Regions from separate parts of the Homo sapiens genome. Here regions 1 and 3 are each linked to region 2. The links come from fine-mapping of genetic effects on gene expression. A gene starts in region 2. Each other region holds a variant in brackets. All regions are shown on one strand. Distances are between the middles of the regions.

Region 1 (10,379 bases), 97 kb before region 2:
ACACTCACAGGCTGAGTCTCTTCACCATGCTCTTCCGAGGCTTGGGCGAGGTGGTGCTGGCGTCAGCAGCTGCTTCAATCTCACATGACAGGGCATAGCTGAGAAAGAGAAGGGGGCTCCATGAGGTCAAAGTTAGAGAATTGAAAAACACACTTAAATTCACATGATGTCCTGGTTTTGTTTTAGAGAAGGCTCTAATTGTTCAAAGTAAAGATATATACAAACGTTGTCCTATCATAAACGTCAGGGGGTACTGACTTCACGGCCCGATTTGACACATTTATCTTATGTGCTTCCTCCCTCACCTCCACTGGCATATGGATTGAGGCTATTTAGTTCTGCGTGTTTCAAATACAAGGATATATGCACTTTGGCAGCATCAAAAACTAACTCCATTCTGATCATTCTCATCCCACTGCTAGGCCAGTGGAAGAATCTTCCTTCCTCTACTACCTCCCCCTCCTATTTCTTCTCTATTACCTCCTTCCTACTATTTTGTATGTGTGTTTGTGCACATGCACAAATGACTTAGTTTTATCTAAAGAAAATGAAGAGACTTTTGTAATCTATCTGATCGTCAATGAACAGACATAGGCAATTACATTACTGATAAAGATATATATATATATATTTATTTATTTTAGTAGAGATGGGGTTTCACCATGTTGGCCAGGGTGGCCTACAAATACTTTTTTAAATTTTTAATTGCCAAAACTTCCTAAATTAAAAATGCTCCAGATTCAGACCTCTATCTGCCAGGCAGATATAACTGACACAAGCACAAGAGGAATTTATATGTGATTCCAAGTGCCTTTTATGAAAGCTTGTAGCTGTAGACAGTAGATGTATTTCGTTACTGAGTAGGTGGGGAAGGGTGCCCAACATTATACAGCCATCTTCAGAGCTTAGGCTGTAGAGCCGGGCAGACCTGAGTTTGAATCCAAATGCTGTCATTAATTCATTCAAATATTTCTCTAAACCTCAAGTTTTTTTTTTTGTAAATACTTATTTTGCTGTCAATTTCACTCTCCCTTATGATAAACTTCCAAAGAAATCCCCTGGGCTAGGGTAGGGATGGGCCAACTTCTTCTGTAAAGGATCACATAGTATTTTAGGCTTTGTGGGCCATATGGTCTCTGTTGCAACTACTCAACTCTGTCTTTACAGCATGAAAGCAACCATAGATGAGATGTAAATGAACGGGCTGTGTTTCAATAAAACCATATTTATGTAGATACTGAAATCTGAATTTCAAATAACTGTTTCGTGTCACAAAATATTCTTTTTTTGTTCCCCCCCACCCCAATCATTTAAAAATGTAAAAACAGGCAGTGGGCCACATATGGCCTGCAGACCAATCTGCCAACAAGCGAGCAGGCTACAGGACAGGGACGTGCTGAGCCAGCAGGCAGGGCACTCAAGTGAACATGCCTTTCTATGCCCATCCCACTATTTTTAAACTGTTCTTTGTGTCCCTGCCACACCTGAGTTATCACTGTTCCTTCAAATGCCAAACATGTCAGGCCACCAAGCTTTTGCTTGTGTTCTCTCTCGGTCTGGAATGTTCTCTTCCGGTTCTTATGGCAAAATCTTGTTTCTCCTTTACAGCCAGCCTAAATATTAATGCCTTTATATTTTCCTTATTTTCCCCAATTCTTCCCATAGGTTTTGTAGGAATGTAGTTACCCATCATATTTCAAAGTTTCATGAGTCTCTCAACCCCTCTAGGTTGAAAGCTTCCTGGAAAGCTACCATCAATTAACAGGAATGACAAACACAGTGACAGTGGTGGTGGTGACAACGCTGAGGACAAGCATTCTAACAAAGCATTCCCACATAAGATCTTAGTTACGCCTCACAAACATTCTACAGATGAGCATCCTTAAGATAGGGAAGAACAAATGACTTGTTCAAGGTTACAAAGATAAATAAGTGGCCAAGCAAGAGTCTGAAAGTACATCTTGATGCTATCAACTCAGCCTTTCCTGCCACACCATGCGCCTTTGAAAACCAAGGACCTGGAACCTAGCAGCTGCTCACTAAATAGTTGTTGAATAAATGACCCAGCGAGGTATTAAATGCAGCATTTTTCTTGCCAACACTTCAGTTCTACCCCGATGAACGACAGGTGATCCCACCTCTCCTCCTCTGTCAGGAGCTGCTGCCTCTGGAACCACTGGATGAACTTTTGGTCTGGGGTCATGCAATAGCTGTTGCAGGCAGACTGTAAGAGCTTTATCTGGGCAATCACTTCAAATTCCTAAAGCAGACAGAATACCAAAAATTAAAAAAAAAAGACTGAATAATAAGGCCAACCAAATATAGAATCTTTCAACATGAAAATATACCACATTAGGATAAAAGATGAAGAAAACCATCTAGGAGGATTCTGAAATACTGCTTCCTTAAAAATAAAGGAGCTAACTAACTCTTAAAAATTCTAACTAGAACTCTCCAAAGTCCTTGTATGCTTTAATTTTTAATCCTCTTTTCTCCTTGAGAAAGCAATTTGTATAAAACAAGCTACCAAAGCAACCCAAACTAGTCACTACGTTAAGTTACAGTGGCTTCCTTTTTCTCTTCTTCACTTTCATCCTTGGAATAGAAAAATGATTTTTAAGGTTTTAAGTACTTCATAAAATATATTAATTTCTATTCATATTTCTTAAAAAAAAGAAAAGAAATACTTTAAGTCAGGGAGCTCCCAAGATCCCCATCCCCATCTTCCTCAACCTTTACCCCTCAATAAATAAGTTTTGGTAGGGCTGAGTATCTAAACAGTCCTAGGTCTCATAAAATTGAATGTTTAGATTTCCTGAATCCTTGGGTTTTTACTACGCCACTAAATCATTTAACTAAGTCTTTTAAAACTCACAGAGAGGCAAGTACATAATTATGTTGAAAATTATTTATACTTATTTGGATGTTTCAATAAAAAAAATTTAAGTCAGCAATGGGTATAAGCTTTAGGTTTAGGTTTTACAGTCAAACTTTCCAGAAGTTTAATATCCTAGTCTAAAAAGGAAAGAGATTACCAACCACAGTTATTCTGAAGTTAAATGACAGAGAGGGGAACTGAGGGGGCAATAACTGAATTTATTATCATTACAGGACATGACAGAAGTAACTCAAGAACTGGTAGATTCTCCAAGTCTCAACTTGCCATCCAGTGACCTCGGCCCTTGGTCTCAGTATCCTCAAGGAATATTTACCATCATGCTAAAGAAAAAAGTATCGTCTATATGGGACAAAAAATTTACATTTGTCCAGGTTAGTATCTTGTTCTGATAAGCCCAGCTTTGTTTAGCTCCTCTATGCCTTTTTGGTTTTAACTTCAACGTCATTTTCTCCTGGAAGTTTCTCTGGCCCTACAAGTTGGAGATAGATACCCCACCTATATACTTCTCTAACACCCACTACTTCTGCTCACAAACCCTTTTCAGGTTGTATTATAACTGCCTATTTATTTGTCTACCTCTCTCCTGGATTGTGAACTTTACGAGGGCAGGCAGCTCTGTTCTTTCTCTGCTGTAATTCCCAAACCCCCCCCATGTTAGGTAGACAGTCAATATTTGTGGAATGTGAAAGTACTGAAAAATAACGAGAGTACTACAGGGTGAAGTTATTATTTTGCTCACTCATTTTCCTTTGAGTCTTTTAAATATCTATTTAAATATGCCATTTGAATATGAAAATCACAGAAAAATTTCAAGACTGTTTTATCTTGAATAGCACAGTTCAGAACTGTGCTATCCACAGGAAGAGTGAAATTGATGTTGAGCACACCTTCCTATGCTGACACGAAAGGGAAAGAATAACTACCTACACCGAAGACGAAGGCCATTTCCTTTCCTCTCTCGAGTATACCCACGAGAGTTTACCATCTTTATTAACTCTTCTATGTCATTTACTCATCAGAAACCCCTTATCCTTAATAGGGTAAACCTGGTTTTTATTTTAATTGGCAAATTAAAAAATTGTTTGTATTTATGGTGTGCAACATGATGTTCTGAAACATGTATATACCGTGGAATGGCTAAATCAGGCTAACTAACATATGCATTACTTCACATATTTATTTGTGATGAGAATACTTAAAGTCTACTCTTAGTAATCTTCAAGTATAAAATACATTGTTATTAATTAAGTGGCAAGCCTGCTATTGCTGAAGCTAATTGTAAAGGAGATAAGGAGTGGGCAGGGAAGAAATGTGGGCTTTGGGGCATCAGGACAGGATGAGAACCCTGGCTTTGCCACCAAGAGATTCTCGTCCAGTAATTTAATCTCTTGAGTCCTAGCTTCCTCACCTTTGAATTGAGGATGATAAAACCTACCTCATAAGGCTAGTGGGGGATAATGTATAGGAGAATGCCAAGCAAAATGGTATATGATAAACGTTCAGTAGGTGCTAACTCATTTTTTTCTGCCTCTACAAAAAAACTTAAGTCCCCATTTCTTTCATTTTTTTCATGCTCAGACAAAGGAAACACAGCCAACAACTCTACTTACCCTTCTCCTTTTCTCAAAGTTTATCAGTCCACCCTAAAAGAAATTTTAATAAAAAGAGTGAGCAACCAAGCTACTTTAAAACACAGCCATATGTTGTCGTAGGTCACATTAAAATAGATCAAAGGGGTGATAAAGTCACAATTATCAATGATCCTATAATTACGACTACTGTGGAAGAAGAGAGTCCTGTTTTGCTTTTAAAAAAAGTATTATTATAAGGCAGGATAAGCAGAAAGCCTTCTCTTGAAATGTCTGAAACCAACTAAAATAGTAATGATAAATAATTACAAATCAGGATCCAAAGACACTTGCAGAACCAGTAAAGATAAAAGCTTGAGTAAATATTCCATTACACTTTTTTCCCTTACCAAAAGCAACTAAAACAGATGGTCATTGACTCATACG[G/A]TTTATCAAAAGGGAAGTCATTTCTCCATAGCATCATGAAAAGTTAAGTTTCAATTCTTCATCCCCTCAGCTCCTATTCTCAGTAGGCTGAATTTAACTTCTAAATCTTTGGTTACTCCCCAGAATTCCCCAACACTGATGGGTGTTTCCTGAGATAAGCTGAGAAAGAGGATGTGAAGAGACATAGAAGTCAGGAGATGCAAAATGAATAAATGTGTCCACAACACTGTGGCAAATCCAAAGGTAGGTAGATCTATGCAAAGTAACTTCTACTTCTTCTAATTAAGATACAATAAAAGCAGGCTGGTTGCATATGATAACAAGGGGGTAGTATATACTGAAATATGCAAGCAATCTTTCAATTTCATTTCAAATTTGAAATTTCTTCTTCACTTAATATTTTATTGCTGCTACTAACAAGTTGTTTATCTGAGTTTTCATGTATTTTCCCTTTCAGAGAAGATGGGGGATGAAGGGAGTAGGGGTAGAGAGAGGGGGAACAGAGAGAAAGAGGGACAAGGGGACAGAGAGAGAGAGAGACAGAGAGAGAGAAAAATACCCCACAGCAGGCAGCAATACAAAAAGAAAAGCATATTTGAAAAATCACAAATTTGACTGACTCTCTACCCCACCAAGTAGTCCTACTCAACATTAAAGTCTTGTGGGGTTTTTTGTTTGTTTGTTTGTTTGTTTTTGTTTGAGACCGAGTCTCACTCTGGCACCTAGGCTGGGCACCTAGATCGTGCAATGACACGATCTCGGCTCACTGCAACCTCTGCCTCCCGAGCTCAAGTGATTCTCCTGCCTCAGCCTCCAGAGTAGTTGGGATTATAGGCACCTGCCACCATGACCGGCTAATTTTTGTATTTTTATTTATTTATTCTTTTTCTTTTTTTTGAGATGGGGTCTTGCTCTGTCACCCAGGCTGAAGTGCAGTGGCGCAATCTCGGCTCACTGCAACCTCCGCCTCTCGGGTTCAAGCAATTCTTCTGCCTCAACCTCCTGAGTAGCTGGGACTACAGGCATGTGTCACCATGCCCGGCTGATTTTTGTGTTTTTAGTAGAGATGGGGTTTCACCATGTTGGCCAGGGTGGTCTCGAACTCCTGACCTCATGATCTGCCTGTCTCAGCCTCCCAAAGTGCTGGGATTACAGGCGTGAGCCACCACACCCAGCCTAATTTTTGTATTTTTAGTAGAGACGGGGTTTCACCATGTTGGCCAGGCTGGTCTTGAACTCCTGACCTCAGGTGATTCACCTGCCTTGACCTCTTAAAGTGCTGGGATTACAGGCATGAGACATCGCGCCCGGCCTTAAAGTCTTGTTCAAACCCAAACCCACTCCTTCATGAGCCCTGTTCATCACAACCCCTCATAAGAGTTCATTGTGGGCCGGGTGCAGTGGCTCAACGCCTGTAATCCCAGCACTTTGGAAGGCCAAGGTGGGCGGATCACCTGTGGTCAGGAGTTCAAGGCTAGCCTGGCTAATATGGTGAAACCCTGTTTCTACTAAAAATACAAAAAATTAGCTGGGCGTGGTGGTGCACGCCTGTAATCCCAGCTACTTGGGAGGCTGAGGCAGGAGAATTGCTTGAACCCGAGAGGCAGAGATTGCAGTGAGCCAAGATCGTGCCATTGCACTCCAGCTTGGACAACAAGAGCAAAACTCCATCTCAAAAAAATAATAATAATTGTCATCTCCCATGTTCTCTCAATGCATTTGTTTGAATTTCGATTATTACTATCGTTCACTGCTTATTTTGATATATTAATTACTTCCACTGGATTTTGAGCCACTTCTGGTGTTAGTCTTTGGTGTTATTCTTTGTATTCCTCCTAACAGCTAGCACAATGCCATGTACTTTTGGACCTTCAAAAGATACTAAGAGAAGTTAACTACTCTTTAGGGTATCCAGTGGGAAGGCTGCAGGCCCGATCACACCACCCACATGGAACTCACCTCGATGTAGTCCTGAAGGGCAGTGTCAAGCATGGTCAGGTCAGTCAGGAAGGTGCCCAGGTAGGGCACAGTTCCCTGCATCACACCCTGAAGAGCATCCAAAGCAAAACTGTCTTTATTGTCATTGAAAAGTTGAGGGGTTTTAGGAATCTTCAAGCTGGAGCAAATGGATGTATTCAAGGCCTAACTGCGGGCCAGTGGTGCTAACCTCCATGAATAACATTTTTTAAATTTCTACACAAATAGGATAGAAACTCCATGATCTAATATCTAACTTGTGAAATCATGAAAACCAAGCCTCAAAGCCAGGAGATCATACACATCTGTTCAAAAGTGTTGACTGTGGGGTTTATGTTTTGCTTTGGCTCAAGTGAGAAGGATGTCTGTTCTCTTTCAGAGCATGGGGACATTCCTGGTAGTTGGGGATGGCACTGGATAGTCATTGCCTCACCATTGGCTGTTGTACACAGAGAAGTATGTACCACAAAAGCATGGGGCATCACTATTAATATAACCCCTTGGGCTAGACTTGGTGACTAACTCTCAAATAATAGAGGAGGGAAAGAGAAAAACAGTAACTTCTGAGGAAGAACCTGGCAAACTCTTCCTTAACCAAGTAATAAAGATCAACATCATTCGTGTCACCATCAACATGACACCAGATGTCACGCTGAAACCATTCATTCACTCCTTGATGTGATGTGATGAGAAGGGCACTTTACTCTGTGATATTCTTTCTAAAAATCCAGAAGCTCAGTCTAATCACTAGAAAACAGCAGACAACCTCAAACTGTGGAACATTCTACAGAATACCTGGATAGACCCCTTAAGACAACCAAGGTCATAAAAAACAGTCAAGAAAACACTGTCGTAGACCTGAAGAGACAGGGGTGACAGACAACAAAATGCAGTTGGTATGCCGGATTGGGTCCTGGAACAGATAAGAAGATACTAGTGGAAAACTGGTGAAATCCAAACAAAGTCTAGATTTTAGTTAATAGTATTATGCCAGTGTCAGTTTCTTAGTATTGACAAATGTGCTATGGTTTTAGAAGATGTTAACAATGAGGGAAACTGCACTTCTAGCTTTGCAGCTTTTCTGTAAATCTAAACTTATTCCAGAATAAAAAGTTGGAAATGAAGGTGGAGGCACTTCTACCTACAACTGCAGGGATACACTATATTCATTTCACTAAATCTCCTTTAAAATCATCTCTCTTCTTCAGTAAGCCACCAAGGCACTAAACATCCTAAAGGAAAAGTAAAAAGCGGTCCCCATGGATCCCTTATCCTAAATCTCATCAAGCCAATTCTGGAAATTTTGGCAGAACACAAAGCCTCAAACAGGGTAAAGCCAGGCTGCTTGACATGAGGCTGGCTGCTTCCTCAGCCAGAACTGCTTTGTGAGGTTCATACCAAGGAGGGTTTTGTCCTTCAGGAACTCACTGTCAGCTGCAGTGTGTCCTTCCCATTCTGTGTACAAGGTCTCATCCTGTACTAAAATAATCTATTTTTTTGGTAACAGCTATTTTTAGCTTGTCTTTGAACAACCAAAAAAGTTTGTAACACTGTGAATGTTTTATAGGCTTCATGTTGCGGAAGAGTCCTATCATTCAAAAACATTTCTTACTTACGTTGAGCTTTCCAAAGAAAGAGAAAACCCTCTTAAAGCAGAATATTTAGAGTTTGTCAGTCTCTAATCTCCTCCCTCTGGTCTTCCACACTTTATGCTAACAGTCAGAAGTTTAAAATGAAGCTAAAGTTGATAATACCTATCTTTCAGTCTTCAGGAGGGAGGCATGATGCTCCTTTAAATATTGAAAAACTATAAAGATTTGGTTAGCCTTGGGATTAGTAAGGAGAGCTGGGCAATGGCTAGATTAGAACAAATGAAAAGATCTCTGAGTACAAGGACCAGGGCCCTGTGGAGAAGACACTCTTTCTCCTTGGTCACCATGTATCAGAAGCTGACTACAGTAGGAAGCTCAGGAGGCCCTCAGGCCAAGGTGGAGCAGCTTCTAAGTGCAGGAGGGGGCGGAAGAGACTGCAAGAGGGAGGAAGTCGACCTGCTGTAGACTCCCCCTCACCTTCAGAAAACAACTTTGCCAGAAAACAGGATTTGCCACCCAGTGCTTACTTCCTACTAGTTGAATGAGGGTAATCATCTCTCTCCTATAGACCTCCCAGGGCTGCTGAGAACAAATGGGGTAGAGAATGGGAGACCCTTTCTGAAAGCCTGGGTGCCCTGTTGACTGAAGGTGCCAGTGCCATGTGGGAGCCCAGACGCACACGGCCCTTCTCCTCTGTGAGCTGTCAGGGAAGACGAGGGCCAGACATACCATGTCCTTCTGGAGCTGCAGCCGCCTCTGGGTACGCTTCTGGTTTTCTTTCACACTGCTGTCCAGGTTTGCAAATTTTGAGGTTCCTTCCTGAGAAACAGAAATGCACACAGAGGGAATTGATACAGGATGCCACAATGGTAAGAAGTAAAGAGGCATCTAGTTTCTCGCACACAACCCTGCATAACTCTCGCTCGGAACACCATGCAAAATGAAGAGGCCTCCAGCAGGCTCTCACGATGTATATTATGCAAATACTTGGCTGGCTTGTTGCAAGTTGCCTATTTATAACGAGGCTGGTGGACTTGGATTTTCTTGTTCTTCCCCCAACTTTGTTTTTTTTTTTTTTGAGACGAAGTCTCACTCTGCTGGGAAGGCTGGAGTGCAGTGGCGCAATCTCAGCTCACTGCAACCTCTGCCTCCCAGGTTCAAGTGATTCTCCTGCCTCAGCCTCCCGAGTAGCTGGGATTAGAGGAATGCGCCACCACCTGGCTAATTTTTATATTTTATTTTATTTTTTGTTTTTAGTAGAGATGGGGTTTCGCCATGTTGGCCAGGCTGGTCTTGAACTCCTGATCTCAGATCATCCACCTGCCTCAGCTTCCCCAAGTGCTGGGATTACAGGCATGAGCCAGCCACCACACCTGGCCTTCCCCTTACTTTGTAAGAAGATCACCTGATTTGGTTATGAAAGCAATCATCAATACAAGCCAGGCAATTCTCATAAATGAAGACATTTTTACAGATCCCAAATTAAACTCAAAGTAATCAGATATCCTGAAAACAAAGATCGACTTCCTCAGTACATTTTGTGATTTCTCGATCTTGGCCTGAAATGGATGTGCCAGCATTCTGTGAAAGAAAGGGACTACTTCTGTAGCATTTCTTAGCTAAATGAAACTTTTGCACCGGAAGTTTTCTGAGGAAGTCCAATATTGTACTACATGACCAATCCATAAAAGTCGAACTTTCACACATCCCCAGCCCCCAGTCAGTTCTTCTAAATTGCCTCTCAGGTTTGGAACTCTTACAAATCAATCCTTCCTCCTGGTGCCTGAGGACACATGGCTACCCTTTCTCTCCTCCTGTCTATTGTAACAACAAACTCTTCTATATAATGAGTAATCATGAGTTTGCTGACTGAACATTAAGTGCTTTTGCGGTTTT
Region 2 (10,379 bases):
TCCTCACTTGGAACTTATCTTAGGCTGACATGTTTTTTGGACCCTGAGTCTGTCATATTCTGAAGACAACAGCATGAACTTCTGACACCAAAGCCCTTCCCAAACAGTTGAATTCTTTTCCTCTGTCCCTTTGAGTATTCATCCTGAAATGTTACACTTCCTGCTTCCAGAGGATACTGATATTTTCTTAACTCTTTTCTATATTATTCACTGTCCATATACAACCACAACACTGGGACCAAAGACAAATAACAAGTTTTGACACTTTGCTCTTCCAAAAATCACAAGATAAGTGAATGTCTGGGTGAAATTACTTCTTTTTTTAAGAGACAGAGTCTCACTCTCTCACTCAGGCTAGAGTGCAGTGGTGCAATCATGGCTCGCTACAGCCTTGACCACCCTGGCTCACGCGATCCTCCCACCTCAGCCTCCCAAGTAGCTGGGACTACAGGCACACACCACCACACTCAGCTAATTTTTTAATTTTATTTTTATTTTTAGTAGAGACAGGGTCTTGCTATGTTGCCCAGGCTGGTCTTGAGCTCCCAGCCTCAAGCAAATTAGCCTGCCTTGGCCTCTCAAAGTGCTGGGATTACAAGAATGAGCCACTGTGCTAGGCTCGGAATTGCTCTTTAATGTCTCTTCCAATCCTAAGATTTTTTAAATTTTGTGACATAATTGAAGTCATTTTTCTTCGAGAATTATAGGTGGGTAAAATTATCCCAGCCAAAGATGTTATTGTAAAGGGAAAATGGGTCAGTATTTCAATAATATTTGGTTTTTCAAAGTTGCCAATATAATCTCACCGTCAATGGGCAAGGATGCAGCTGCACGTACAAGTAAACTGGGCCTGGGACATACTTGGTTGTAGTTTTCCAAACACAGAGTTTTACTTTAAAAGATCAACTGAACACAGAATTTAACAGACAAAATAAAAAAGAATGACCTAAATGTTTTGGACTGTATAATACTTCACATCTGAGGATATGTAATTATTTTGCTCTCCTCCCCAAAATTGAATCTTAATTATGTTTTGAGATCTGAATACTAGAAAATACAAAAATTATGTTCCATCTTTTAGGCATCTGGAATAAGCATTACAGACACGTAACAAAGCTATGCCTATCCTCACATGCTACATAACCTCATACGTATCTTCATATCTTCAATGCACCCTGCTTTAAACCTCCAAAATGGGGAGTTTATCAGTGAGATCATAGCTTCGCAACAAATATCTCAATTTGCAGCTCAAGTTATCATTCTAGACATGAAGAAAAGAAAGTTACATCTCTCCAGTCTTGCAACATTAGGGAAAAGCACACCCAAAGCATCCTCAGTCTTTTGAGCCAATGTTCTTTTCTACTACTATGGAAACAGCCTTAAGGTCCCAGGAAATTCTTCACAACAAAGAGCCAACCATCTGGATTTGAATCTGGTGTTTACCACTTCATAGCTGTGTGACCCTGGCAAACAATTTAACCTCTCTGGGCATTAGTCTCCTCATGTTAAAAAAAAAAAAAAGAGAGAGAGAGAGATCATCACAACACCACCTTCCTCAGAAGGTTGTTGTCATATTGCAATAATTTCCTCACCTGACCCCACTCTCTAGTAACTCTGAAACTAGTTACTTTGAAGAATTTTGAAAGGGTACTGGAATACAGGAAAACAAACATGGGGAAGCCACTCAGTTCTAAAGAGAAAGGTTTGTAATTGCTATGGCTCAATGGGTTGAGTCACATTTAATTAAGTCTGGAATTTTCAAGGACAAAAACAGAACTTCCCAACAGGACACCTAAGACAAGAAAACACGTAGATTAGAGCTGGAGAGCCCCTAGGAACTTGCAATAAAGGAGTAGGCTGGTAGCAGTAAATCACACTTTGTTGAAATGGGGGCGAGGGGGACAGATTCCTCCATCAACTAGAGCCAATCTTTTCACATTATCCTCCTTCTCAGTATTTCATATCTACTGTTGAATCCAGGGTGAATTAACTCTGAACTCTGTATAAATTTGAGAACACTGAGAGAAGGGAGAGAGAAGAAAAGAAGTGAAGTCTAGTGAAGAGAACAGTCAGTGGGGATTACTAAATAACTCTGAGCATCTAAATACATGACAGTTTGTAGATGTGGGGCCTACAGAGTGAACCCCTCCATTTCCAATGACTTACTCATAACTAATGTTGTATATGGCTGAAAACTAAAACAGTCACCCAAGCAAAGTCAGTCTCATTAGAAAGAGAGGAATAACCTGATACCAAAAAAATGTAATGACCCTTTTGAAGACAACTGGTTCAGAAGTTGTGAATCATTCTGAAATAGCTAGAGGCCAAACCACATGGACGCCACATTTAAATAAAATACATACACACAACCACCAAAAACAAAGTGATGACTTGTCAGAACTCTAGTTCTGCTTTCCCTATCAGGTCTGCTAGTGATATACATAATTAATTTTAAAATCATATTCTGAGTAAGGTAGGTACTTGGTAAGTGAAGACCTCTAGTTCTCACTGGAAAGCTCCTATCTTTCCAGACCACACCTGCAGATGTCATTAACAATTTCTGGCCCTCATGGGTGATACCTTGGCCCAAAGTACAGTAGCAGGAAAGGCCTGAGCTGAAGCAGCTGGGGAAGCCCAAAGCAATGAATGCCTGTGTCAGCAGACTCATGGCAGAGGAAGTGATTGCTGCCGGCCATGGGCCACCATCCTGCCTTAAACTCCCTGGAGTTACAAGTCACACGTTACCACTACTCTTAACAGGAGGCCCTGTGCAATTTTGTGTCCTATCCTCCTTCACACTCCACCTTTGAATGCTGCTCAAAATATTCTGAATTTTCAGAGACTCCAAGCCGCTAAAGATGGGATGCAAGTGCATAAATCTTCAACACTCTGAAGCCCATCGGCTAAAATAAGGCCAGCCAGGTGAAATCACACTCCACCCCCTCTATTCAGCCAACCATTATTTTCTTTCTCAAGGCTTTTTGGGTCGCCTCTCACCGCCTGGTCTGAGAACTACTTCTCCTTCCAGATCAAGAATCCCTTCATTCTTCCACATGTTTGACATTTGCCCAAGTAGTGATCCTGTCGCTGAGCTTTCCATTTCTCATATTCGCTTTATTTGGGATGTGTTGAAGGATCTACTAGGTGATACCTACAAACTTGCATGACCTCACCCAATATTTTACAATCTCAGTGGAAAAGAGTCCTGTTTACAGAAGCAGCATTTTTCCAAAGGCCCACCACTCTACACACAAAGTAGTGGGTACTAAGCATCCATTTGCCTCCTCCCAAGATATAGAAAAGAGATCACAATAGGAAATCTACCACCCCTCAAAGGATGCAGACTTGGAATGCTCTGTCTCCTGAGCAATCTGGGTACCTCCTAGAGATATAGGAGCAAGGCAGACGCTGACAGCATCAATTGGGGGAGGGCAGAGAGAGACAAGGGTGGCTTCTGGGCAAAGCTGCTTATGGCTCTTGTCTAAGAGAGTGCTGCTCTCTGGGCCTGTATTCTGTGTGTCATTTTCTGCCACTCCACCCCCAATCTATTTGCCAAAGACCTCAAGATGTTTCTAAGAGGTTCTGAATTATTGACAAACCTAGGGAAGATGCTTTTGAAAACATTAAATACAAAAAGAGACCTGTTCAGCTAGTGCAAACACTTGGTCATTAGCATTTTCCTTTTTAAAGCGAAAAGAGGAAAAAAAAAAAAGCCTGCCTCTGTTAAATAATAATGATATTCACAGAACGACAGACACTGAAATTCCAAAGTTCACCATCTCGCCAGCTTTACTCACCCCTAGCCATCTTGCTCCTTTATTGGCAGCCTGTTGAATCTGGACTCTTTTGAGGGTGACATGGTAAACAGCTCCTTCCTCTACCTCTTCACCCCAGTCCTGAATCGAGCTCTGCCAGGGACGGGATAAAGAGAAAGAAAAAGAGTATTTTTTTCCTCTCTGCTAACCACAATCTATCCCAGCTGCCTTGCTGCTTACAACAGCACTCAGGGCACAAGATGGGCTGTTCAAAATAAATATTACAATCCGCAATACAAGACACATTTTGATAGAGGGAATGCTGAGATTTTCTTGGCTTGCAGTCCCTTCCTGTGGTATCAGGATCCCCTGACTTTTCCATTTAGTTATTTCTCCTAGACTTGCTCACATATCTTAAATAGTTTTGTTTTGAAGTCTTTCTTTTTCTTTACAAAGAAACTAGATTAGTCCTGATTAACTTGTCCCCCTTAAGTGAAAGGAAAAATAATTCTTTGTAAAAAAAAAAAAAAAAAAAAAAAAAAAAAAAAAAAAAAAAGAAAAGAAAAGAAAAAGAAAAAGAAAAAAAGAAAAGAATAAGTCTGTACTTTTTAGAGTGGCTCGGTCATTGAAGAAACCAGATTTTAAACTCAGACACAAACAAGTGTTTAAAACGCCAAGAGTCCTCACTCCTTTGGAAGTGAAGTGGTTTGCTTGTCTTTTCTCCTCATTGTTTTGGAGCCCACAAAGTTAGCGGGGGTGGAAAGTTTTTATTTCCGTAAAATAATCTGGCAAGTGCAGAAAAAGCAACACATCATCAGGCAGCTTCTACTAAAATCTGTGCAGCGACCCCCTGGATTTCCATGTCCCCAGCTAAACCTGAGGTTTGTGTTAAAGAGCCGCTGGGACGCAGAAGCGCTCCGCGGTTCACCCACACTAACAGTTCTTTTTCCTTCAAAGTTCTCCCCTCCTGACATGCATCTGCCCCAGACACACCACAGGCAATTGCTGAGAAAGTAGGTACGGTTGAAAGGGAGAAGACACGCAGAGAGAGAGGAATACAAAGCGGAGTGAGAGAGCTTTAGCTCACAAGTATGGAATCGGATTGCTCCGTTCACTCCGAGGGAGTCCAAAACACGCCCAGCGAAAGCGGGAGAAGATTCCCCACCAGAGAAGCCTCGGGAGAAGGCAGAGAGCTCTCGTTACCATTTTAGCTTGCCAAAGCAATTTCATTCTCAGTTTTCTCTCCGGTGCGCGAACGCTGCATGATGCGCCCTGCTCGGAGGCCAACGCAATGTCTGCTGGGCTCAGCCCCGCGGCGCCTCGCCCCGGTCCCGGTCCCGAGCGACCGCAGCGCACAGACACGCGCCGCGCTGCCCCCGCCGCCGCCGGTGCGCGCGACTCGGGCCACAAAGGGAGCGCGGCGAGCGAGCGAGCAAGCGAGGAGCAGACTCCTCCCCACGCCACTCCGTGATGTAAGGCTTTCCTGTTTGTGCTTGTGAGCACACTCTCCCTTTCTTCAGTCCCATGGATAAAGTCAGCATGAAAGCGTTTCTCCAGTTCTGAAGGTGATTGGGAAACAACACTTTCAAGTTTATCAGGTTTTCCTGACGGTCACCAGGTGCCAAAATAGAACTGAGTGTGGGATGGAGGATTTGTGTGTGTCTTCTTCCTTCGCTAAAACAATGGAAGGAGAAAGTCCAAAAAACTTCCATTATCTGCCTATTATCTATTTTGATTTTAGAATAATTAAGTCAGAATGACCCCAGTGAGAGCCGCAATACTAGACGCCAGGAAGTTTTTCATTAGGACAGAGGATAAGGTCAGAGGACACCCGGGTATTCCAAAACCATGCCCAGGGGCTATACCCTCTCCTGCATCAGCACACTGCCAACAGGAAATCGCGCTGGGCTTTTCACCACCCCAATTACCCAGTAACTGGCCATTGGGGGTGGGAAGGGAACAAAGCAGGGTAAGGTTTTGCTAGGACTGACAGTGTCCTGGAGGTTCTGTGAGTCTTTGTGAGTAGCCACCATGGGTTGAGTTGCCTGTACTGTAGGGACACAGTAGGATCATAGCCACAGGGAAAAGTTCTTCATCAGATGACTACCAGCAGGAGTTTTATCATAATGGAAAGATCTGCTATAGGGATAAAAGATTATTACATTTTTTTAGATCCAGTTTTAACAAGTCAACAGCAAGAGATACCAGATAATGCAGTCAAACTTGACACCTGCCAGAATTCCATGCAAATTGCAAATACCTTTAGGGCTCATGTCTTTCATACTATTCACCCTAAATGAATTTAATCACCTTCAAATAAAAAAAAAAATAGGTCTCCCACTAATTGCCATACTATGACATAAGCCTGGGTTTTGGTTAATGGTAAATATATCATGAGCTGACAATTTAGCAAATCAAGTGTACTGATGTTCCCAGGAGAGCAGAATAAATGACAGCAAGGGCACATTAAGCAAAAACAAAAGGATCTGTGGACACTTGAGAACATCTACAAGTCATTCAGCCAGGTTATCCCCATACAACCAGAACCTAAGGGCACCATCACTGTATAGAGAGGAGATGCCCTTTTAGCAAGCTGAAGTGGTTGTTCTATAATTTAAAAAACAAACGAACGAAAAACACATAGACTAAATCCTTCTATGATGATCAGGGCAGAATGTTGCTGGGAACCAGAGGAAAATCATGTGAAGGCCCTACCTCCCTGCTTGTTAAGCCATCCTCAGGAACCCAGGCCCACCTCTAGAGGACCTATTAGGTGATCTTGGACACCACGAAATGCAACTGAGGACAGTTAAACAACCTGTAAGATTAACTTCACCACTACTTTAACCTGATTTTTGGCTACACATTTGGCAGTAACTGAAATATTTCCATTTCAGGGATATTAAGCAGTTTCTTCAACCTCACTCTCCCAGGAAACCTTCCTGGACAGGGCGGCTTAAATTCACAAGGCCCCACTCAGGTTTCAGAGCTACTCACCTTTCTCTGTACTCCAATTCCCTGGCTGGCCACCTAGTGTGTAAAGGGAAAAGAACTAGCTTCAAGCCAAGTGGATACAGCTTCACATCCAGCCTTGCAGTGAGTGAACCTGAATGCTACTACCCTGAGCCTTAATTTCCTCATCTGCAAAATGGGACAACCATCTACCTGAAAGAGTTTGAAAGAGATCAAATGAAATAATGCATGCAAATCATCAAGCACATGGTAAGTGATCCAAAAAAATTCCACTGCCTCCTTATTGTACTTCCTCCCAAACCATATTTATCCAGACTCAGTGAAAAGCGTGTTATGTATGCAACACTAGGAAATCTGAAATGATGTCTTCTCATGGAATTACTTTAAAATTTCAGAGAGGTTTTCCAAGAATAACTATTTGTATTTACACCTCACAATGTATGTAATTTTGTACAAATGCTGTTCTGCAAAAAAAGAGGCAGACTTTATGCTAGATAGAGCAATTGTGTGTTGCAGTTTACAAATTTTTTAATATTCATTTAAAAATATTTCATCAGTAGGCAGTTCAGTCCATATTACCTTATTACCTGTACCTTTGGGTTAAAGTACTCCTGGTCAATATGTGGGAAGACAAACCAGTAAGCCATTTATAACTCAGTTGGTGTTTATTTACCACATTAGCCTTCCCGTGACCTAACAGAGTCCTGAGAGGATAGGTTAAGTTTTGTTAAAAGATCAGGAATGTTTTGTAGTTTTTAGAGAGCAAGACTTGCATCTCTTTGGTTCAGTTTATTCCAAGGTACTTTATTCTGATACTATTGTAAATGGGATTGCTTTGTAAATTTCACTTTTAGATTGTTTGTTGTTAGTATATAGAAACACATTAATTCTTTATTTTGCAATTGACTGAATTTGTTTATTAGTTTATAAGGGTTTTTTTTTTTTTTTTTTTTTGCTGATACACCTAAATAGAAAGACATCCCGTGTTTACGGGTTGAAAGACTTAATATGTTAAAATGTCCATATTATCCAAAACTTTCTGCATATTCAATGCAATCCCTTCCGAAATCCCAAGTGTATTTTTGACAGAAATAGCAAAAATAACCTTAAAATTCAAATGGAACTACGAAGGATCCTGAATAATCAAAGCAATCTTGAAAAAGAAGAGTAAAGCTGGAGATCTCATGCTTCTTGATTTGAAAACATATTACAAAGCCACAGTAATCAAAACTTTATGGTACCGGCATAAAGACAGACACACAGATCAATGGAACAGAACAGAAAGCCCAGAAATAAACCCAAGCATATGTGGTCAACTGATCTTCAATAAGGATGCCAAGAATATACAACAAGGAAAAGATAATCTCTCCAACAAATGGTGCTGGGAAAACATTTGTACAAAAACTAGATCACATGTAAAAGAATGAAATTGGACATTTATTTTACACCATACACAAAAATCAATTCAAAATGGATTGCAGACTTAAACATAAGACCTGAAACTATAAAACTCCTTAAAGAAAATTGCTATAGTTTGGTTTGTTTGACCCCTCATAATCTTATGTTGAAATTTAATCCCCAGTGTTGGAGGTAGGGCCTAATGGGAGGTGTCTGGATCATGGAGGCAAATCCCCCATTAATAGCTTGGTACCATCCTCAAGGTATTGTGTGAGTTCTCACTTTATTAGTTCCAGTGAGAGCTGATTGTTACAAGGAGTATGACCCCCATCTCTCTCTTGCCTCCTCTCTCACCATGTGATCTCTGCATGCGCTGCCTCACCTTCCCCTTCTGCCATGAACTAAAGTGGCTTGAGGCCCTCAACAGATGCAGATGTTGGCGTCATGCTTCTTGTGTACAGCTTGCAGAACCATGAGCCAAATAAACTTCTTTTCTTTATAAAGTACCTGCTCTCAGGTATTCCTTTATAGCAACACAAAGGACTTAGATAAAAATATAGGGGGAAAGCTTTATTATATTGGCCTTGGCAATGATTTCTTGGATATCACACCAAAAGCACAGGCAAGAAAATTAAAATTAGAGAAGTGAAAGTACATCAAACTAAAAAGCTTCTGTGCAGCAAATGAAACAATCAATAGAGTGAATAAATGACCTATGGAATGGGAGAAAATATTTGCAAATCATGTATCTAATAAGGGGTTAATACCCACAATATTTTAAGAGCTTCTACAACTGAATAGAAAAAAAAACCCAATTTAAAAATGGGCAAAACACCCGAATAGATATTTTTCCTAAGAAGACATACAAACGACCAACACATATATGAGAAAGTGCTCAACATCACTAATCATCAGGAAAATGCACACCAAAACCATAATGAGATGTAACCTCAAACCTGTTAAGGTGGCCATTATTAAACACACACACACACACACACACACACACACACACAAAATAACAAGTGTTGGTGAGAATGGGGAGAAATTGGAACCCTTGTGCACTGTTAGTAGGAATGTAAAATGGTGCAGCCACTATGGAAAACAGTATGGTTCCTCAAAAAATTAAAGAGAACTACCATATAGTCTAGCAATCTCAATTCTGGGTATTTAACCAAAATAAATCAAGATCTGAAAGCGATACTTGCACTTCCATGTTCATTGCAGCATTATTCACAATAGCCAAGAGGTGGAAGCGACCTAAATGTCCATCAACAGATGAATGGATAAAGAAAATGTGGTATTATTAAGTATTAAAAAGAAAGAAAATCCTGTCATATGCAACAACATGGATGAACCTTGAGGACATTACTCTAAGTGAACTAAGCCACTTACAGAAGGACAAATACTACATGATCCCACTTATATAAGGTATCTAAAATAGCCAAACTCTTAGAAGCAGGAAGTAGAATGGTGATTGCCTGGGGCTGGAGAGAGGGGCAGATGAGGAATTCCTGTTCAGTGTGTACAGAGTTTCAGTTATGCAAGATGAATAAGTTCTAGAGATCTTTGTGCTTATAGTTAACAATAATGTACTGTACACACGAAAATCTGCTAAATAGGGGAAGATCTATATTTAAGCATTAGTATGTTCTAGGAATAGTTTTGTGTTGCCATATTTGGTGTACACTGACAGTAACAACAGAAAAGTTCTAGCATATAAGAGGAAAGAGGTATGGAAGAGCAACAAACGGGAGAAAAAAAAAATTTCTTGCTTTACAGTTTTACCAGAGCCAATAGATAAAGAGCAAATGCAAGCAGCTGGTGTGCTGATTCTTTAATAGAGTCTGTCTAGAAATGGAAGTATACAATATATATACCCCATTCATTCATTTATTTATGTATTCATTGGTCTCTATGACACCACATTTTTCTACATTTTATTCTACCTCTCTGGCTGCAAGAAGAATTAAAAAATATAAAAATTATGACAGCATGTACTTATGTAGGATGATATGGAGTGATATTTATGTGTCTGGGTAAATGATGGGACATATGGCATATGAGTTTAAATTCCAGCTCTGGATGACTTGCCAACCAAGAGTCTGACCCTCACTTCTCACAGCCTTATTTTTCTCATTTGTCTCTTGTCATGCTTATCATGAGGATTACACGAAATATACTATGTAAAGTATCTGATAGAGTACTTGGAACATAGGAGGCATTGAATAAAAATGTATCTCCTCTCTCTACTTT
Region 3 (9,574 bases), 140 kb before region 2:
TGTTCAGAGCTGAATTAGAGCATAAAGTGCTGAAACTTGGTCAATCTGAAGAAAATAGATGGAAAATGCATAAAGGTGTACATTTCCTGTTGCATGAGATGCCTGCCACAATCTGCCTGGACCGATCATAGTGGCCACTTTTCCTGGAAATATGGCAGGAAAGTAACACAGGGAACCTAGTTAGATCCCTTCTTTTTTTTTTTTTTTATTTTGTTCAGCTTTGCCCTTTTATTTGACACCCTAAACTATTTCAAGGCATAGATTTTTATAAAATGTGCCTTTCCATGTTATATGTTGGTTTAGAATATCAGTAGCTTTGTTTTCTATTTGCATAACTCCAACTAAGGAGTATGGCTAGCAGCTGTTGAAGTTTTTATGACTCCCTTAGAGAATCTCATCAGTGTTTCCCAAAGTGTGACCTGGACACTCACATCAGAGTCCCCACGGATGGTTAAGGGGACAGCTCCCTCAGTCCCATCTCAGACCTGCTGAATTATGCTCTCTGAGGCTGGACCCAGGATCTGCATTTAAGAAGCCTCAAGGTGATTCTTAGACAGGATTGCCCCATAAAATACTGGATAGCCAGTTAAATTTGTCCCAAACATCACATGGGGCTTGGTTATACTAAAAAATTATCCATTATTTATCTGAAACTTAAATTTGACTGAGTGTTTTGTGTTTTTCACTTCCTAAATCTGTCAGCCCTATTCTTGGGTGCAGTAGAGTTTAGGAACCACTGCTTCAAATACCTCCAAGAACACCAGTCCCATTCATAGACCACATGGACCAGGGAAACTAGTTGAGTAGTGAGAGTTCTTTATATATCCTGGATGCAAGTCCTTTATCAGATATGTAATTGTCAAATATTTTCTTTAACTTTATGCATTATTGATTGTCACAATTTCATGATGGTATACATTGAAGCAAAAGAGTTTTTCATTTTGATGAAATCCAATTTATTTTTTGTTCTTGTTGCTAGTAATTTTAGTGTCATACCTAAGAATCCATTGTCAATTTCAAAGCCATGAAGATTTACTTCATGAAATTTTCTTCTGAGAGTTCTACAGTTTTATCTATTACATTTAGGTATTTGATCTATGTTGAGTAAATTTTTGTATATGGCATGAGGCAGGGATCCATATTCATTCTTTTGCACATGGTTATCCATTTGTCCCTTCACCATTTGTTAAAAAGACTTTCGTTTCCCTCGTAGAATTGTCTTGGCACCATTGTAAAAAGCCAGTTGCCCATAAATGTAAGGATTTATTTCTGAACTCTCTATTTTATTTGATTGATCTATATGTCTATCCTTATGCCAGTACTATACCGTCTTGATGACTGTAGCTTTGTATTTAAGAAGTATGAGTCCTTCAATTTTGTTATTCTTTTTCGAGTTTGTCTCAGCTATTCTGGGTCCCTTACTTTTTCCATATGAATTTTAGAATTAGCTTGTCAAGTTCCACAAATAAAGAAAACGGCAGCTGGGATTTTGATAGGAATTGCATTGAGTCTGTAGATCAACTGGGAGAATATTTCCGTGTTAACAATATGAAGTCTTCTGATTCGTAATCATGGAATGTCTTTTTATTATTTAGATCTTCTTTAGTTCTTTGAATGATGTTTTGTCATTTTCAGTATACAAGTCTTGCATTTATTTTGTTAAATATACTCCTAAGTATTTTACTCTTTTGATGCTATGGTACATGGAACTATTTCCTTAGTTCTATTTTCAGATTGTTCATTGCTAAATGAATAAGAATACAATTGATTTTTGTATATTGATCCTGTATCCTGCAACCTTGCTGAACCCTTTTTATCAGTTCTAATAGTACTTTTTCCTTTGTGTGTGTATATTCCTTAGGATCTTCTACATACAAGACCATGTCACATGCAAGTAGAGATAGTGTTATATGTTCCTTTCAAACCTGGATACCATTTATTTCTTCTTCATGTCCAACTACCCTTGCTGGATCATCAAGTACAATGTTGAATAGAACTGTTGAGTGCAGTTTCTTGATTTGTTCCTGATCTTAGAGGGAAAGCATTCAGTCCGTCACTGCTAAGTATGATGTTAATTGTGGGTTTTTCACAGATGGCCTTTACTGGGTTGAGGAAGGTCCCTTTTAGTCCTATTTTGTTGAGTATTTTTATCATAAAAGGGTATTGGATTTTGTCAAATGGTTTGTCCGTGTCTATTAAGATGAACATGTGACTTTTGCCTGTTAATATGGTACGTTACTTTGATTGGTTTTCACATGTTAAACCAAACTTGCAACCCTGGGATAATCCTGGGACCCATTTGGTCATGCTGTATAATTCCTTTTATAAATTGCTGGATTCTCTTGCTAGTATTTGCTTGAAGATTTCCACATCTATATTAATAAGTGATATTGGTCTGCAGTTTTCTTATAATGTTTTTGGTTTTGTATCAAAATAATATTGGCTTCATAAAATCAGCTGGGATGTGTTCCCTCCTCCTCTTTTTTTTTGGAAGTTTGTGAAAGATTCGTGTTAACAATTTTTAAACATTTGGCAGAAACCCCTAGTGAAGCCATCTGGTTCTAGGCTTTTCTTTATGGAAATTTTTTTTATTACTAATTAAACTTCTTTTCTTGTTATTTATTTACTTTCTATTTCTTCTTGAGTCAATTTTGGTAGTTTGTACCTTCCTATCAATTTGTCCATTTCATCTAGGTTATCTAATTTGTTGCCATACAATTGTTCATAGTATTATCATATAATCTTTTTTACTTTCATAAGGTCAGTAGGAGTGACCCCTCTTTCATTCTTGACTTTAATAGTTTGAGTTTACTTTTTTTTAATTCATCAGTTTAGGCAAATAATTGTCAATTTTGTTGATCTTTTCAGAGGACTGACTTTTGGTTTTGTTGATTTTTCTCTATTGTTTTTCTATTCTCTAGTTCATTTATTTGTACTGTAACCTTTATTATTTTCTTCCTCCTGTTTGCTTTGGGTTTAATTTTCTCTTTATCTAGTTTCTTAAGATGGATGGGAGGATTATTATTTGAGATATTCTATTTTACTAGAGACATTTGCAGCTGTAACTATATCTCCAAGTACTATGTTAAGTGTATCGCATAAGTTTTGGTATGCTGTGTTTTCATTCATCTCAAAATATTTTCTAATTTCCCTTGCAATTTCTTCTTTGACCCATTGGTTAGGAGTGTATTGTTTAATTCCACATTTCTGAATTTCCCAAGTTTCCTTTGGTTATTGATTTTTAATTTCAAACCATTGAGGTTGGAGAACATACCTTGTGTGATTTCAATCCTTTTAAGTATACTGACACTTAATTTATGACCTATATGGTCTTTATGGTCTAAAAAATGGTATTTCTTAGAGAATGTTCTATGCACACTTGAAAGTGTGTATTTGGCTATTGTTGGGTGGAATGTTCTATAGATGTCTGCTAGGTCTGATTATTTTAAGATATTATTCAAGTCTTCTGTTTCCTTGTCTTCCTCCTGCCTAGTTCTATTATTGCAGGTGGGATATTGATGTCTTCCCCTATTATTGTTGAATTGTCTGTTTCTCCTTTCAATTCTTCCAGTTTCATGGTTCTGAGGTTCTGTTAGGTGCATATGTATTTATAATTGTTATGCCTTCCTGATGGATTGACCTTTTTTTTTTGAGATGGAGTCTTGCCCTGTCACCCAGGCTGCAGTGCAATGGCACGATCTTGGCTCACTGCAAGCTCCAGCTCCCAGATTCACACCATTCTCCTGCCTCAGCCTCCCAAGTAGCTGGGACTACAGGCACCCACCACCATGGCCGGCTAATTTTTTGTATTTTTAGTAGAGATGGGGTTTCACCGTGTTAGCCAGGATGGTCTCGATCTCCAGACCTTCTGATCTGCCCACCTCGGCCTCCCAAAGTCGTGGGATTACAGGCGTGAGCCACCACTCCCGGCCCAGATTAACCTTTTTATCATTAAAAAATGTCCTTCCTTGGCTCTAGCATGAATTTTGTCTGAGATTTATTTTGCCCAATATTAGCATAGCTCTGCCAGCTCTCTTGTCATTGCTGATTATATGGTATATCTTTTTCTATTCTTTTACTTTCAACCTATTTTTGTCTTTTAATCTAAAGGCTGCCTCTTATAGATACCACATGGTTGTATTAATTTTTAAAACTTACTATGCCAAATTCTTCCTTCATTGCAGTGTTTTATTCATTTGCCTTCACTACATTTTTTTCCAGATCCTTAAGGTCAGCCAGAGGTGAGAGACTAGGGACTTCTCAAGTTTTTCCTGGGCGTGTGGACAGCCCTGAATATGCCTGGGGCCTTCTAGATTCTCAGGGATATTTTGGAGCAAATCAAACTCCCTATGGACCTCTTATTCCTTGGTTTTTCCTTTTAAGTTTTTTGGTGGGCTTCTTGTTAGCATCAGCTGATAATGCTTCTCAAACAGCTGTAATGTTAAACAGTTGTTGCTCATGGGTTTTGACAAATGACCTGCAGATAGTGCTGTTCACAGAAAATGAACTCTGAGTCAGGTCAAATCAAGACAAGCTCTGAGAATGTAGCTTTTCAAGGAGCTACTAGACAGGTTGAATAGAGATTATTTTCTGGGGGCAGGTCTTTAAGGGAGTCTCAGTCCATTTTGTCCCTGCCAGTGGCTTCTGGGTTGGTGGGGTTTGCCGCTCTCTTAGTTGTGAGGCTACTGGTTTTCAAGGCTTTTGTAGGGCTGGGGTGAACAGGTTAGGATTAGGGCAGCTGTGAACTTCACAAAGCTCACTGTGTTAACAGAGATTCAGCAGTAGGTCTTGATCAAACACTCCTTGGATTATTGCAGTACTTTAACTAATTTCCATAGGAGTGTACTTATTAAATCTTGTCAAAAAACTGATGATGCTTAGAACTATGTTGGGCACTATGAGGGATACACAAAAATATGATACCCTCTTGTCTTCCCAGACCTCATAATACTAGTGTGACACATTAGCCTGGAGGAACTTCTAAGGAATAAAGGGAAGCCTCTCTGTCTTTGTCTGTGTGGGGGAGGGGTGTTTGCAGAACTAACTCTCTCTTTCTCTGGCCTTTGTGGTGGGGACCTTTGACTTGTTAATCTCCAGACGTGTTTTATGTGATGCAGGGCACTCAACACAAGCCAGCTGAAGGCACTGAATATTGAAATGCTGCCTGGCTATCGAGATCCCTATTCCTCCAGGCCTCTAACAAGGGGTGAAATCGGCTGCTTTCTCAGCCACTACTCAGTCTGGAAAGAGGTAAATAATGCTTTATTCAGATTGCAGTTTTATGATGAGGAGAAAGGAAAGCAGGCTATCGTAGGTGAGTTAGGGCCAGATGTAAAGTGAGCCCGCAACTGTTCTGGAAATGTGCATGAGAGCTGCTCCTGCCTTGTGTCTCCCTCTGACCCAAGACCAGCAACAAAGGGGCAAGGAGGAGTAGCTTTGGTGCCACTTGGGGTGGTGACGGGGGAGACACCCATGTCCTGTGTGCCACACTCTTATTAATTCATTATCATCATTAGCAGGAATGCCTTCTATTATACCTATTATGACATCACTTATTAAGTGATTTTATACAAGAAATCACACAGAAGTCATGTGAGGTGGGTTGGGAAGGACAGACCACCTTTACCGAAGAAGAAATTATTAAGTAGCTTGACCCGGTAAGAAGTGGCAGAGCCAGAAGTGGAACCCCTGTCTTACAGATCAAGACATATCTGGAGCAGATATTGGTGTGTGGGGTTCCTGATAAACAGTCAGTTTCCACAACCAAAAAGAAAGTCCCTGAAGAAAGGCCCCTTGAACACTTTCTCTTTTAATGATCCAGTCTATGCCTGCCTTTGTTTTCTTTAAACTTTAAGTGAAATGTGATAAATAGGTATAAAAAGATATAGATCAAAAGATACAGCTCAGGGAAATTTCACAAACCAAACAACACACCCATGTTAATCAGTACACAGATCCAGAAGCAGGTAACCAGCATCCCACAAGCACCCCCCCACCCCGTACTGCCTTCTGGTCATCAGTCCCCAAGGGCAGTCACCATCCTGACTTCTAAAGGCATTGAATAGCTTTACCTTTGTTTGTACTTTCCCTTATATGAATGGAATCATGCAGTATGTGTACTCTCCTAACATGACATTTAGGAGATTCACCTATAACGTTGCGTTTAATTGTGATCATATATCCTCACTGCTGTGAATATTCCAAAGTTTATTATCTATTCTACTGTTGATGGCCATTTGCTTAGATTCCAGTTATGAATCTGTGCTACTAGACTCGTGACTTTTTAATACTTATTTATCTAATAAAAATTGGGTTTCAAACTTTTCATAGGGTATCTTCCTACTGATGACTTTTGCAGGTAATTGATCGAGAGCTAGAGAAGACTCTTGTAATTGAAGACGATGTGCGTTTTGAGCATCAGTTTAAGAAGAAGCTGATGAAGCTGATGGATAACATTGACCAGGCTCAGCTGGACTGGGAACTGATGTGAGTGACAAGATGATCTTACGAGAGGGCTCTGAGAGGCACTCAGTCCTTTCCAATGCGCAGAGAGCCCCACCTCCACAGCCAGTAGGAGATACAGCTTAAGCTTCCACTTATCTAGTTTTCTTTCCATAAATGTTCTCAGAAATAAAAATGGGTAGAGGTTAGCCACTGGATTTTGCATCCTTCTACTCTTCAGGGTGGGAAACTGTGGAAGATTGTCTGAGACCTGGAGTCGGCCTGCAGATCAGGGACCTTCAGACAGAACCAAGGTGTGGCACTGAGCACTTACTTAGGAGCACAGCAGAAATCCCACCCTCAATTAACGTGGCACATGGAGTGGGTGTGAAGCTGGAGAAGAGGCCATTTATTCAAGCTCTAAAGTCCTGTGTCATATTTAAGACTCAGCTCCCGGGACAGCAGGTTGCCTCTGCAGCTTCCGAGAAGGTGGGAGGTTAGAGGGTCAGCCAGGGAGCTCCTCTGTTGGGAAATGGGGCTGCACAAACATGAAGAACATGGACAACTAGATTTGGGGAAGGGTCTGAGGCTGATGCAGGAAAACCAGGCTCACCAAGGGAGTGCTGGCTCTGAGCTGACATTTAGTTAATGTTCTTTGTCTACTCTCTGGGAATTGAGTGGCTTCT[G/A]CTTTTTTCTTCCCTTCCCTTTCATTTTTCCTTCCCTTCCCTTTCATTTTTCCTCTCCCTCTCTCCCTTCCTCTTTCCTTTTTCTTCTTCCTCCTCTGCCTCCTCCTTTCTCTCTCTCATTTTCTTTTTAAAACAAATGACACTTTCAATTTCTCTCCAATGAAGCAGAAAGTTCCCAAGCATTGTGTTTGCTCCCAGCTGTGTGTCAAAGGCAATTCATCAACTCTGAGCCTGCTTCTTTGGAGCAGCTGCAGCAGAGGAGCTGTCCCTGCTTCTCCCACCCACAGGCGGTATTTAACTGTGGGCCCAGGTGGAATACTTGTTCCCTCAGAAAATGGGCCACTCTGAGCTCAGAAGAAACCTAGCAATGGCTCAACTAATGCGTCACTGTGTAATAAGACACCTATGCCCTGTCAGATTTCAGTCATGTGGTCATGTGGTTTGGTTTGGCATTCTGCACAGTCCCTTGAGATCACTGTTTCTTCCTATATCCTCCAGAAGTCGCTGCACTTCAGCCTTTCTCAATGGATGGCTCCGCAGCCTGTGGTTAAGGCCTCACAGGCCTGGAAGCTACTTGATGTCCACGTGACTTGTATAAAGGCAACTTCACTTAAGCCTCATAATCACAGAAGACTGAGCCCAGAGAATCTAAGGTTTAGAGCTGGCATACGTTCCCGTTCACATGTAGTTCGGTGGGTGCATTTCTCAGGACAAAGTACCGACAGATGCAAGAAGGAAGAACAGTTGTCTTGATAAGGATACAGGAAAAAAATGTTTTCTAAATTTCACAGGTTGATCAAGTCAAAATATCCCCTTAAAATCTATTATATAGTCTTAAAGAACTGTAACAGTTTTAAATTGTACCTGTTATTTTCTAAAACAAAAAAGAAACAAATGTTACTTAAACCTAAAACATGAAAGGTAATAAGCTGTTCATGATTGCCACATTACATCTTTCCAGGAAAAGAAAATAATAAAAGGGAAGAATAGAACAAGTCATTGGAATCATTGAGGGAGTGTTGTTCAATAGAAATATAATGCAAGCCACATATGTCATTTTCAGTTTTCTAGTAATCACATTAAAAAGGTAAAAATAAATTAGACTAAATTAGTTTTAATACATTTTATTTAACAAAAATATCCAAACAGTATCATCATTTTGGTATGTAATTAATATTTTAAAACCATTAATGACATAGTTTACCTTCTTTTTTTTTTTGTACCAACTCTTCAAAATCTGGTATGTATTTTACACTTAGAACACCTCTCAATCCAGAAGCTAAATTTTCAGCTGTTTAAGTAAACTGGGCTGGGCGCAGTGGCTCACGCCTGTAATCCCAGCACTTTGGGAGGCCGAGGCGGGTGGATCACGAGGTCAGGAGATCGAGACCATCCTGGCTAACACGGTGAAACCACGTCTCTAGTAAAAATACAAAAAATTAGCCGGGCATGGTGGCGGGCTCCTGTAGTCCCAGCTACTCAGGAGGCTGAGGCAGGAGACTGGCATGAACCCAGGAGGCGGAGCTTACAGTGAGCTCAGATTGCACCACTGCACTCCAGCCTGGGCGACAGAGCAAGGCTCCATAAAAAAAAAAAAAAAGTAAACTGTCGTCCTACCAAAACAATGAACTTGTTTCATGGAAAAAATATATATATTTCACACAGCTTCAACATTTAAAATTAAATTAATTAAAGTTAGAGCATTAACTCAGCACCTCTATCACTCTAGTTCCTCTCAAGTGCTCGATAAGAGTTTCCCTTCCACTGGATGAGACACGAGAGAAGCTCAGACTCCGTAATCTGAAGAGAGAGTGGCTGGGGATATATGTTTGTTGTTCTCAGAAGAACTGAAGATTGAACATAGACTTGTTCTACAAATCCTGGGATGCTTTCACAAGGGGGAATCCCTTGAATGTTGAAAGAGATTGTTTTAGGGCAAAATAGAGGAAGTACTGCTTTACCTGGCAGGCAAGAAGGAGGCAACTCCTCAGGTTGCTCCAGTCAAGCCCAAATCAATAGGTTCCGGACAAAAGTAATGGAGCACAGATCCATGGGTAGACTAGGGAAGATGGGAGTGGCCAAAGGTGCATCCTGTGTTGTAGAAGTTGTTCACGGAGGACGGAAGGTGCCTGGGGGGCCTTTCTCAGAGCAGCATGTCTGGGAGGAAGCCTGGCCACAGCTGGACGAGTGTGAGGCAGGAGAATGCCTGTCAGGAGCTGTCATTCATCCTCCCCAAAAGGAACCCCTTAGGGCCACTCTTGGGTTCCCAGAACCTTCACTGCAGACTGACTCTTTCCCCCAGCTTATTTGGTCCTGTGTTTCCCACCAGCACTCGGAGTGCTGTGCAGAAGGCATCCAAGGCTGACACTCTGGGGACCTGAAGACAGCAGCCTCAGGATTCTCCCATCTGGCCTTTTTTTGTGCCTTTCCAACCTCTGTAAACACAG

Alleles and levels. Positions count from the first base shown, and alleles are read on the strand shown. Sizes are in standard deviations (SD) of each study's normalised expression. Not every link is listed here.
As copies of A replace G in region 3, the expression in lymphoblastoid cells of the gene that starts at base 5,163 in region 2 goes up (small effect, 0.28 SD a copy in GTEx).

The links. PIP is the estimated chance that this variant, and not a neighbour inherited with it, causes the effect. A credible set is the group of variants that fine-mapping cannot tell apart.
Region 1: its variant is the best candidate, but not a certain one, in a credible set for the expression of RGL1 in whole blood (TOPMed, PIP 0.87).
Region 3: its variant is the best candidate, but not a certain one, in a credible set for the expression of RGL1 in lymphoblastoid cells (GTEx, PIP 0.55).

What each region holds. Positions count from the first base shown.
Region 1 is chr1:183,896,731-183,907,109 of GRCh38, reverse strand. RGL1 (ral guanine nucleotide dissociation stimulator like 1) reads right to left here. Exons shown (of 18, transcript NM_001297671.3): 10 at 9,213-9,302; 11 at 6,874-6,960; 12 at 4,510-4,542; 13 at 2,139-2,260; 14 at 9-98. Among named protein-coding and RNA genes, the nearest start is that of RGL1, 97 kb to the right of the region's middle. RefSeq lists an enhancer at 8,829-8,988. The variant G/A (reference allele first, on the strand shown) is at 4,915.
Region 2 is chr1:183,799,904-183,810,282 of GRCh38, reverse strand. It overlaps RGL1 (ral guanine nucleotide dissociation stimulator like 1), which reads right to left and starts at 5,163. Exons shown (of 18, transcript NM_001297671.3): 1 at 4,959-5,163; 2 at 3,798-3,908. The coding sequence starts at 4,985. RefSeq lists enhancers at 2,691-2,740, 3,484-3,543.
Region 3 is chr1:183,941,108-183,950,681 of GRCh38, reverse strand. COLGALT2 (collagen beta(1-O)galactosyltransferase 2) reads left to right here. Exons shown (of 12, transcript NM_015101.4): 9 at 5,118-5,250; 10 at 6,359-6,486. Among named protein-coding and RNA genes, the nearest start is that of COLGALT2, 92 kb to the left of the region's middle. RefSeq lists enhancers at 4,197-5,039, 5,040-5,882. The variant G/A (reference allele first, on the strand shown) is at 7,128.